Regions from separate parts of the Homo sapiens genome. Here region 2 is reported to be linked to region 1. The links are microRNA targets in miRTarBase. Many come from high-throughput screens and were not tested one by one. Region 1 holds a microRNA gene; the other region holds the end of a gene's coding sequence.

Region 1 (4,295 bases):
AACCGACTTAATTTGTAAGTGTAACAAGATACTTACAGTTGGATAATTTAAATGTCTATTACTTGTGCTGAAATGTATTTAACTTTCAAAACCATTACAGTTAGTGCTGATTTTGTTGTTTTAACTTTTAGGTTTGTGATTGAGGATTTCAGAGTGGGTTTTTTTTTTAATGCTTAATTGAATATTGTATTCAAACAAAAAGAGGGCATGCATGTGACTTGTTGCTAATATGTGTCCATTTTAAAAAGGAAAAAGTGGTATCTAATGAGTTAATCATTAAGGAGTATGCGCAGTGCCGGCCATTTCAGGACATGAAAGTTTCTGTGGAGCTGCTTGAAACAGGAAGGAGCGACTTGACATCAAGTATTTAAACTTTTTGATTTATGTTTTGATAGATGACATTGATAGGTATAAATTATAAATAAGTTTGAGTAACCAGTTTAATATGTAAACTGGTATTTCATCTACAGAAAGTTCTCTGTCATTGTTTGGAGCTCTTTAAAATAACTCAGCTGGGGTGTTTAAGAATAAAAACACTAGCAGTGAGTTAGGACATCTAATGCTTTTAAAGATAGATGTATATGTCGCAACGATAGTGTAAGAATCAGCTGAAGCTACCGGTGAGGTTTTGGTTATTTTCTTTCAGTCATCTGAGTCCATTTCCAATAAAGGTTGTTTTTTTGTTTCGTTTTTTGTTTTTTTTTAATGGGGACAATGAATGAGACTTGTAATATGCAGCAGGAAGAAGTTTCACCAAGACTTTGAAACTGGCAAGAATGATCCAGATGTCCAATTGCCTCTACTTAACCTTATTCGTCTACCTTCAGAAGTAATTAGATTCTCTTCCACACTAATTCGTATCCCCCATCGCTCTGCTTTTCACCCACTACGTTGTTCCAAGATTCATCCTCAGGGGAAAAAATTGAGAGCCACACTTTCGGCTCCACCTGCAGCTCCTGGAAATCAAATGGTGAAGTTATAAGAAGTACCTTAACTTGGAGTGAAGTGGCCTAGTCATAAGTTTTGCCCTATTCCTTGCCAGGGGGTGGGGCGGGGCTTCCTTCAGTCATCCAGTCTTTATTCACCCGCAGGTACCCCCAGATCGATCCCCCTTCATTGACTCCGAGGGGATACAGCAGCAATTCATGTTTTGAAGTGTTCTAAATGGTTCAAAACGTGAGGCGCTGCTATACCCCCTCGTGGGGAAGGTAGAAGGTGGGGTCTGCCGGACGCGTGTTCCTGCCACCAGGTGCCCGCTCCCCGCGAGGCCGGCTCAGGAGCAGGTAGGTGGGCGGGGGCTCGCGTCTCTGTTTCCGGCGGGTCCTCGCCCTTGTCCACGCAGCAGGGCTGTAGTCCGGGGAGGGCAGTATTCCTGGCTAGGCTGGGGCGCATAGGCGGTGCGAGTCGAGGAGAGACGCGGTGCCCGCGCTCAGCCGTGCCCTAGCAGCGGGAACAGTTCTGCAGTGAGCGATCGGTGCTCTGGGGTATTGTTTCCGCTGCCAGGGTAAGTCTGGGACTGCCGTTCGGGCCTACCCAGCAGGTAAGTCTTAGGCCATCGCCTGCGGTGTCGGCCCCGGGAGCAGCGAGACCCAAGATTGCATCAAACGTTTGCCCCGTCTCTGCATATGTGACTGGACGTGAATGATGCTTCATTTTGGCACCCCCTTTCCCTGCTCAGGTAGAATGTAAACAATTGAAAAAAATCCCTTCCCAATCAGAATACCACCCACAGGACAACGAAGAAAACCTATCTTCAGTCCCCACCCACGAAATGCTGGGGGGTGGGGAGGACTGGAAAAGGAGTAAGGGGAGAGGAAGGGTGAGCAGCTGCAAGAAGTCTTTACACCTCTCTGCGGTTCCTGGTAAACGCGCTCATGTCCTGGGTATGGAAGGGACTTAAGAATTCAGGAAAGATCAAAATAACGGGCCTCTTCCCCACTCCCTCGCCCTCCCTTCCCCGCTGCTGGGGGGTTAGGGAGGCTCCGTGGAGCTCCAGCACTCTAGAAGGATCGGGTGAGGCGCGAGGCCTTGCGGGCGGGTGAACCCAAGGTGGGGTGGAAGGCTCCAACCCGCCCAATCTGAGCCCGAGGCCTGCTGAGAAGCATGGGGGCCTTGGGATAGTTCCAGAATGAGGATGTGCGTTTCTAGCTGCTTTGCGCCCTCCTCCCCCAAAAATCTGCTACCACAATTCCAACCCGGCGGCACGCCCCCAAGACTCCTTTGTCGCCCCAGGGGCGGGACCTGAGCTGTCGATTTCAGGAGCCCTTCGTGACTTCAAAAGTCCTGGGCACTGTTGCTCATGAGTGCTGCACAACTGTCGCCCTCTAAAGCCACCTCCATCCCTCACTGGGCTGGCCTCCTGAGCCTTCGGTGAGGAAACGGGGTTCCGAGTTGCCCGCCTGAGAGCTTAACAGTCTGACTAGAAAAGGGCTAATTCGCTTTCTGTGCAAATCTCTTGAGCTAATTATTTAATCTGAAACATGGACAGGTAAAGGACCATTGGCGGGCGTGGGGAGGGAGGTGTGGAATCTTTCCCACACTTTTTGTCACCTTAAAGAAAAAAAAAAGACACCCAAACTCCTCTGGTCTGAATGGGCTGCCTGGAACTGGGCTTCCCGGGGCCAGGAGTGGGCCCCTAGAAGTTTCCCAGTTTGGGGTGGGGCCGGGGTTCCGAAGTCTAGAGCTGGGAGTCGGGTTCAGCGGCCCGAGACGCTGGCTCTCCCAGACTCCCTTGCGCCGGGGCAGTGCGCGGGGGCGGCTCGGGTCCCTCCCGGGCCGGCGGGGACCCTCAGGCTCCCGGGGCGCCGCCCACCAGCCCGACCCGGCGGCCTAGAAATCCCCATTCTGCTCCCGCCTCGCCCCGGCCGGCCAGCGCAGGGCCCCTCAGGCCCGCAATCTCCAGGCTCAAACGGCGAACAGGTCCCCGCATCCGCCTGCCTTTGCACTTGGGGGTGGGAGAGCCACCTTGTGACGCCCCTTCTGCCTCTCACCAGCTTCCCCCTTTCTCCCCGTCCTGTACGGTTCCCCCTGGAGCCAGAAGGAAGCCCGGTGCCAGCCAGCCTTCCTGAAAGACCAAGCCCGCGCCATCCGGCTTCCTCCAGTGGACGCCTGCAGGACCCAGGTGAGACACGGAACCGGTTGGGGACGCGAGCCAGGGATCCTGACCGGTTGGGGGCGGCGAGCAAGGGATCCTGACTTGGGGGCGTTGCCTCCCGGAATCCAAGCGGCCTTTTGCCCGGGTCTCCCGAGATGCATCGAAATTGAGCTCGTCCACACAGCCCCCTGACTGCGTGATGCCCTTTTCTGACTTAAAACATTCCTTGTACCTTTATTTACACGATCCAAGTTGCAGTGTGCCTAGATTTTCCTCCAAGGACAAAAATGTGAATAAAGCAATATTTTAGCCAAACATTTCTGTGTCAATTAAGAAGATTGCAATTCGTTCCAGACTATAAATTCTCTTTAACAACTCCCTAAGGTATTCTTTTAAATTGTTTTTCAGCGTTGCTAAATGTGCATCATAATGTGTGGGAGACTTGTATAAAGTGAATCAATTTATACTCAGCTGATTAATTGACCCGATGTTACCACCTCCAAGGAGGCACCTTTCCACTATTTTCTCATTTTTTCCCCAACACATGTTATTTGTTAGTGAGGAAGCTGCGTGCACGTGGCATTGTATAAAGTTTATTAGACAGACGTGGCCCTTAAACTAGGAAGAGCTTAGTCTAACTCTAAATCTAAAATTCGACATTTCGGTAAGTTGTGAGACAAGATACCCAGGTTGTTTGATAAACCAGAATTGAACATAATTTTTTAAAAATTTAAATCACAGGAATGTTTTTCTTGAAGGCATCCAGCATCTCCAGTTAGCAGTACTGATTTTTTTTCCCCCCAACAAAGGAACACTACATCAACACTGTTGGCGGGGACCTGGACACAGAAGACTCCTGTTTCAAGAAAATACAATCATCTCTCAAAGGCTGTAATTTATATGCATTTTAAAACTCTAGGCATTGAAAACCACCCAAGTGTCCCAAATAGAAGGGTAATATATAATCAATCACTCAGTGTAATATTATACATCCTTTAAAAATGTTATTGGGAAATGTTTTATGATCTGTAAGTCCAAGGAATCCTCTCCCACCATTTCTTTCCCCCCGCTGTTCCCCCATACCCACACTTCTTTGTTCCAATTGGCATGTAAATTTGGTTTTCCCGCCAAATGAGTCAGTCATGATGGGAACCTCAACTGATTTGAACAGATGTGTGTCAATGTTACTTGGAAAACTAGA
Region 2 (4,295 bases), not on the chromosome of region 1:
GGCAGACAGGGTGAGGTAAGGTCAGGAATGTGTGCTGTGGCATTACTGAAACCTAAAGAGAAAAAAATCGTGTTTCAGGAAGAAATCAACTTATAAATGCTGAGGAAGAAAGGCTAGTAGTGATTATTATTTCTCATTACCTAAGCATTTGAGTCATTTCTGTTATTGTCTGAGAAGCTGGAGACACAAAAATAGGATTTGTAGGTAGCTTAGGGCCTAGTCAGAACCTCTATTTTCTTAACTCTAAAGTGGAATTAGAACTTTCATAGGTGTTTGAGGATGAACTGGTTAATACAGGTAAAGGCTCATGTTCTTCCATCTGCAGAAAGCATAGTGAGGTACATCAGGATTCTAAGATGTTTAATATGTATTTTTAAATAGGTTTGGTTAGAACTGAAATGTCTGCTATACTTTTATTATCAAATATGTTGATCCTTTCCTCCTGTTTTGATGTGAAGTCAGTTTTGTTGACTGCCTCTTCTTATCCCCAGGGGTGACCAGTCCCGGAAGAGAGCTGGGGATGAGTTGGCTTATAGTAAGTAATGATGTTCCTTCCCATCTTGATGGTTCTGTGATGTAAAGCAGCCATATTAATGCACTGTGATAACAGTGCATTGAATTTGATGATACCCATGTTGTTCTCATAAGGCACTGCTTGTAATCAAGGTCAGGATGCTTTGCATGCTGTGGCAGCTCCAGCTGGTAGCGATGGTTCTCAGGGCATTGGAAAGAGGCCACCAGGTTCTTTAGTTTCTACTGGGATGACATCGTAGCCCAGTCCCAGTTCCTTAGGTTCTCAGTCCCCTTTTACTTCCCTCCACCCCACATGGTTTTGAGGATTTTTTTTAAGCCTTTTTTGGGGAGTTGGGAGAGGAGTGAGAAATGTGTGTTGAATAAACAGATTCCTGCTGTTATCAAATGCTGTCTGCTCTTCATACTTTTTCCTATTCTGATGTTTTTTCAGATAGCTCGTCAGCATGTGCAAGTTCCAGGGGGTACAGATAGTGAATGTATTGAATATGCTTTCCTTCCTGAAAAGAGGACACACTGGAGCTGCAGAGACTGTATTCAGAGCACAGTGGGGGCTGCACACACTCAGGAGCTCTGTCACAAAGCTGTTCATGGAAGAGGATGTTGGACTTCTTACTTGGTTTGTAATTTTAAAACAAAAACTAAAAAAAAAAAAAACGTTGCTGCTAGACTTGGGGGTGATTTTGAAATGGGACAATCTTTTAATGAGTTTATCTACAGATTCTGTGAGGAAAAAGCATCTCAGAAAGTGACCATTTCTAAGTGAAATCTGACAGCCAAAATCAGCAGCTTCCTCCAAAAATATAAGAGCAGAAGAATTTTTTTTTTAAGCACTTGTTTTGTTCATTTGTGGACTTGGCATTTTGGTGTATTGGTTTCACATGTCAGGATCTCTTTTGCTTTAAAACCAAGCAGATCATTACAGTACAGTATTTTTCACCCACAACCAAAACAACCCCTTTTAAAAGAGTTGGTCTTTGTTTAGCATTAGAAAGTCTTGTTAAAGGAAAATGCTAACTCTGCTTTTGCTAGAACTTTCCCCCATCAGTTCACAACTTTCTTCTACTCTGTGCCTTGAGCTTTGTGCACTTTGCAACTGTGTGACCATGTTGTCAAACTCCTCCTGGAGAAGTGTATGGTATCTAAACTCACCCACCAAGATGGCAGGTGTGGCCCTGTAGCAGGATGCTAATTAAGTGGGAAAATAGAAACCTTTTGCACATGGGTCGGATTTTCCCCTGGTTCACCAGAGCATATTCATATTAATGTTGGGGACCAACTCTCCTAGAGCATTTCCATTCCCTGTGCCACTTAACACGATGTCTGTCACCAGCTGCTATAGTATTGGCAGTACTCTAGTTTAGGGATGGGCGGTACTTTAGCACGGAAGCTTCCCTTAGTATTATTGAGAGCTACTTCCTGCGATGCTCTAGGAAGCAGATACAGTTATTAAGTCCAAATACACAGTGGTGTGGGGTTCCTGATCACTTCATTTTAAATGAATGAGATAATTACTTAAAAAAAGTCTGTCATTTGAACATTATATTTGAGTGTGATAGGGAAGAAGTAGCACTGCTGTCCTAAGGCTCCCTTCCAGCTGTGGCAAAGCTATATTTCTGTTTCTCCACATCCACAGTGCTTTTTAGTCCATCATAAAAGTTTCTGAAGCTTATTCTAGCTGTTGTTGAAAGCCCAAGAAAAATAGATGTGGCAAGAGAAAAATACTTTTCTTCTCAATTTTGCTTGAATCTTAATTGAGCATAGGCTTCTCTACTAGGCAACATCAGACTAATAGTATTTACCTCTTCAGAGAACTTGAGGGGAAAAGAAACATCCCAGGGATGCTGTCGCATGTCTGCTCTGCAGGTTCTTCATACAGCTGCCTCTGCCAATTCAGTTTATTTTTTGGGGGGAGTGGTGTGGGTGGGAGAGTTAGAAGTGGGATATTGGGAGCAAGTAAGTCACCCAATAATTGAAGTCCTTGATTTGTAAAACTGTTATACAGAGAAGTAAAGATAAAGGTTGTCAGATTTATTTTTTAAAGTACTTAACCAGAGTTCGTGGATTTTGTGGACTTTAATTGGACTCAATTCACTCTGTGAGCATCCTGGATTGCATCGATGAACACTGAATTACTGTAAGAACATAGACAGGCTCTCACTATGACCTGGACAGTTTAAGTTGCTACACTGGTAACATTCTAGTATCAAGGAGAATTCCATTCATCATGACATTCACATTTTACTTTTCTCAATGGAATGCTTGCTTCAGGCTTACCAATCACACCTAGAACTGAAGTCTGAGTGAGTGGTATTAATAATTTTTCTGAAAGGAATAAAATTGGAATGTTTCTAAATGTGGAGAAATTCTTCAGTATCCTAATAATATACCCAAATGCTTTTTCTGGGAGAGAGCATTCTTTTACAAAAGAACTTTCCCTATAAAAGCATCACAGTATAATGTGAATTGGCATTAAAATCTTTGGATGCTTTTGCATTATTAAGTTCATGGAGAAATATATTCTTTTTACTATGTATGTATTAATAAAAAGTGGGCAAAGTAAAGTTTGCAAAATTTAGTTTCTCTAAATTTTTGCACAGTGACTGCAGCTGGCTATGGGTCAGCTCTTAATACAACAAAACCTTGACTGGAAGTCACTATAGAAAGGTTGTACATAGTCTCCCAGTCTACATGTCCTGGCTGTTAATCATCTTGGCCCCTTGAGGCACATCACAGTTTGAAGGACCTGTTTAAGTTGAAATAGACTTTGCTTATTTATTGGGATTCTAAAAAATTCTGAGTGAGTTTGCAGTATGAGAGGAAATAAGATTTCCTCCTCCTTCCTCTCATTTTATATTGACTGTTTGCCAGAAACTGTTTTCTTCTGTTTTCTTATATTTTGTTTTTGAGATGGAGTCTCACTCTCTCACCCAGGCTGGAGTGCAGTGGTGCAATCTCAGCTCACTGCAACCTCTGCCTCCTGGGTTCAAGTGATTCTCCTGCCTCGGCCTCCTGAGTAGCTGGAATTACAGGCACGTGCCACTACGCCCGGCTACTTTTTGTATTTTGTTTTTAGTAGAGACGGGGTTTCACCATGTTGGTCAGGCTGGTCTTGAACTCCTGACCTCAAGTGATCCACCCACCTCGGCCTCCCAAAGTGCTGGGATTATAGGTGTGAGCCACTGCACCTGGCCTTTTTTTTTTTTTTTTTTGTATTCTTGCCAGTACAGTATATGGTTTTTCTACCCCAATTACATACTGGGTTTTGTACCACATCACTAAAGGCCCAAATCATTGAAGATACAAAACCGTACATGCAGGCTGGTTGTCTGGTTAGTCAATGGCTGATTTGCTTCAACTGTCTAGTATGTATGTGCAGCCTGAAACTGGCTCCTTAAAAGGAAAGCCGGGTCAGTCATCTTGAAAAAATGACATGTAAAAGTAAATCGATAATTGTTTTGAGAGACGGTACATGTTTTAAAGGTTGGCCTTAAGCTTCAGTAACATTGTCATTTTGTGACCTTTTGTTGTCACACCTGTACCCTAACCTGACAGGAATTAACTACTGTTTTTTTGTGGGGCAGAAAGCAAAACCTGGTGTTGTGACTTTTATCCTAATGGTTCTTAGGCAAGGTTAGTGAGAAGAAACACAAACCCAGATGCATGCATTGTGCATTATTTTGTAGACAAGCTACTTTTTCTTCTGTCCCTTTAACAAATTTGCAGCAATTACCCTCCCTTTGGGGTCTAGAGTGAAAGCTAAT

Evidence for each region. The annotated mature microRNA hsa-miR-503-5p reads UAGCAGCGGGAACAGUUCUGCAG and lies in region 1 at 1,442-1,464, shown strand. An mRNA with a match to its seed (bases 2 to 7 or 8) in the 3' UTR can be bound and repressed. Matches are read on the target gene's strand: a 7mer-m8 pairs with bases 2 to 8, a 7mer-A1 pairs with bases 2 to 7 and ends in A, and an 8mer does both.
Region 2: the mRNA of CACUL1 is a reported target of hsa-miR-503-5p. Seed matches in the 3' UTR shown: 7mer-A1 at 1,193-1,199 and 7mer-A1 at 1,864-1,870.

The regions. Positions count from the first base shown.
Region 1 is chrX:134,543,540-134,547,834 of GRCh38, reverse strand. It overlaps MIR503 (microRNA 503), which reads left to right and starts at 1,437; the gene lies at 1,437-1,507. It overlaps MIR503HG (MIR503 host gene), which reads left to right and starts at 1,205. Exons shown (of 3, transcript NR_024607.1): 1 at 1,205-1,283; 2 at 3,038-3,121; 3 at 3,836-4,295. It overlaps MIR424 (microRNA 424), which reads left to right and starts at 1,124; the gene lies at 1,124-1,221.
Region 2 is chr10:118,682,838-118,687,132 of GRCh38, reverse strand. CACUL1 (CDK2 associated cullin domain 1) reads left to right here. Exons shown (of 9, transcript NM_153810.5): 8 at 492-535; 9 at 965-4,295. The coding sequence ends at 1,005. Among named protein-coding and RNA genes, the nearest start is that of CACUL1, 70 kb to the left of the region's middle.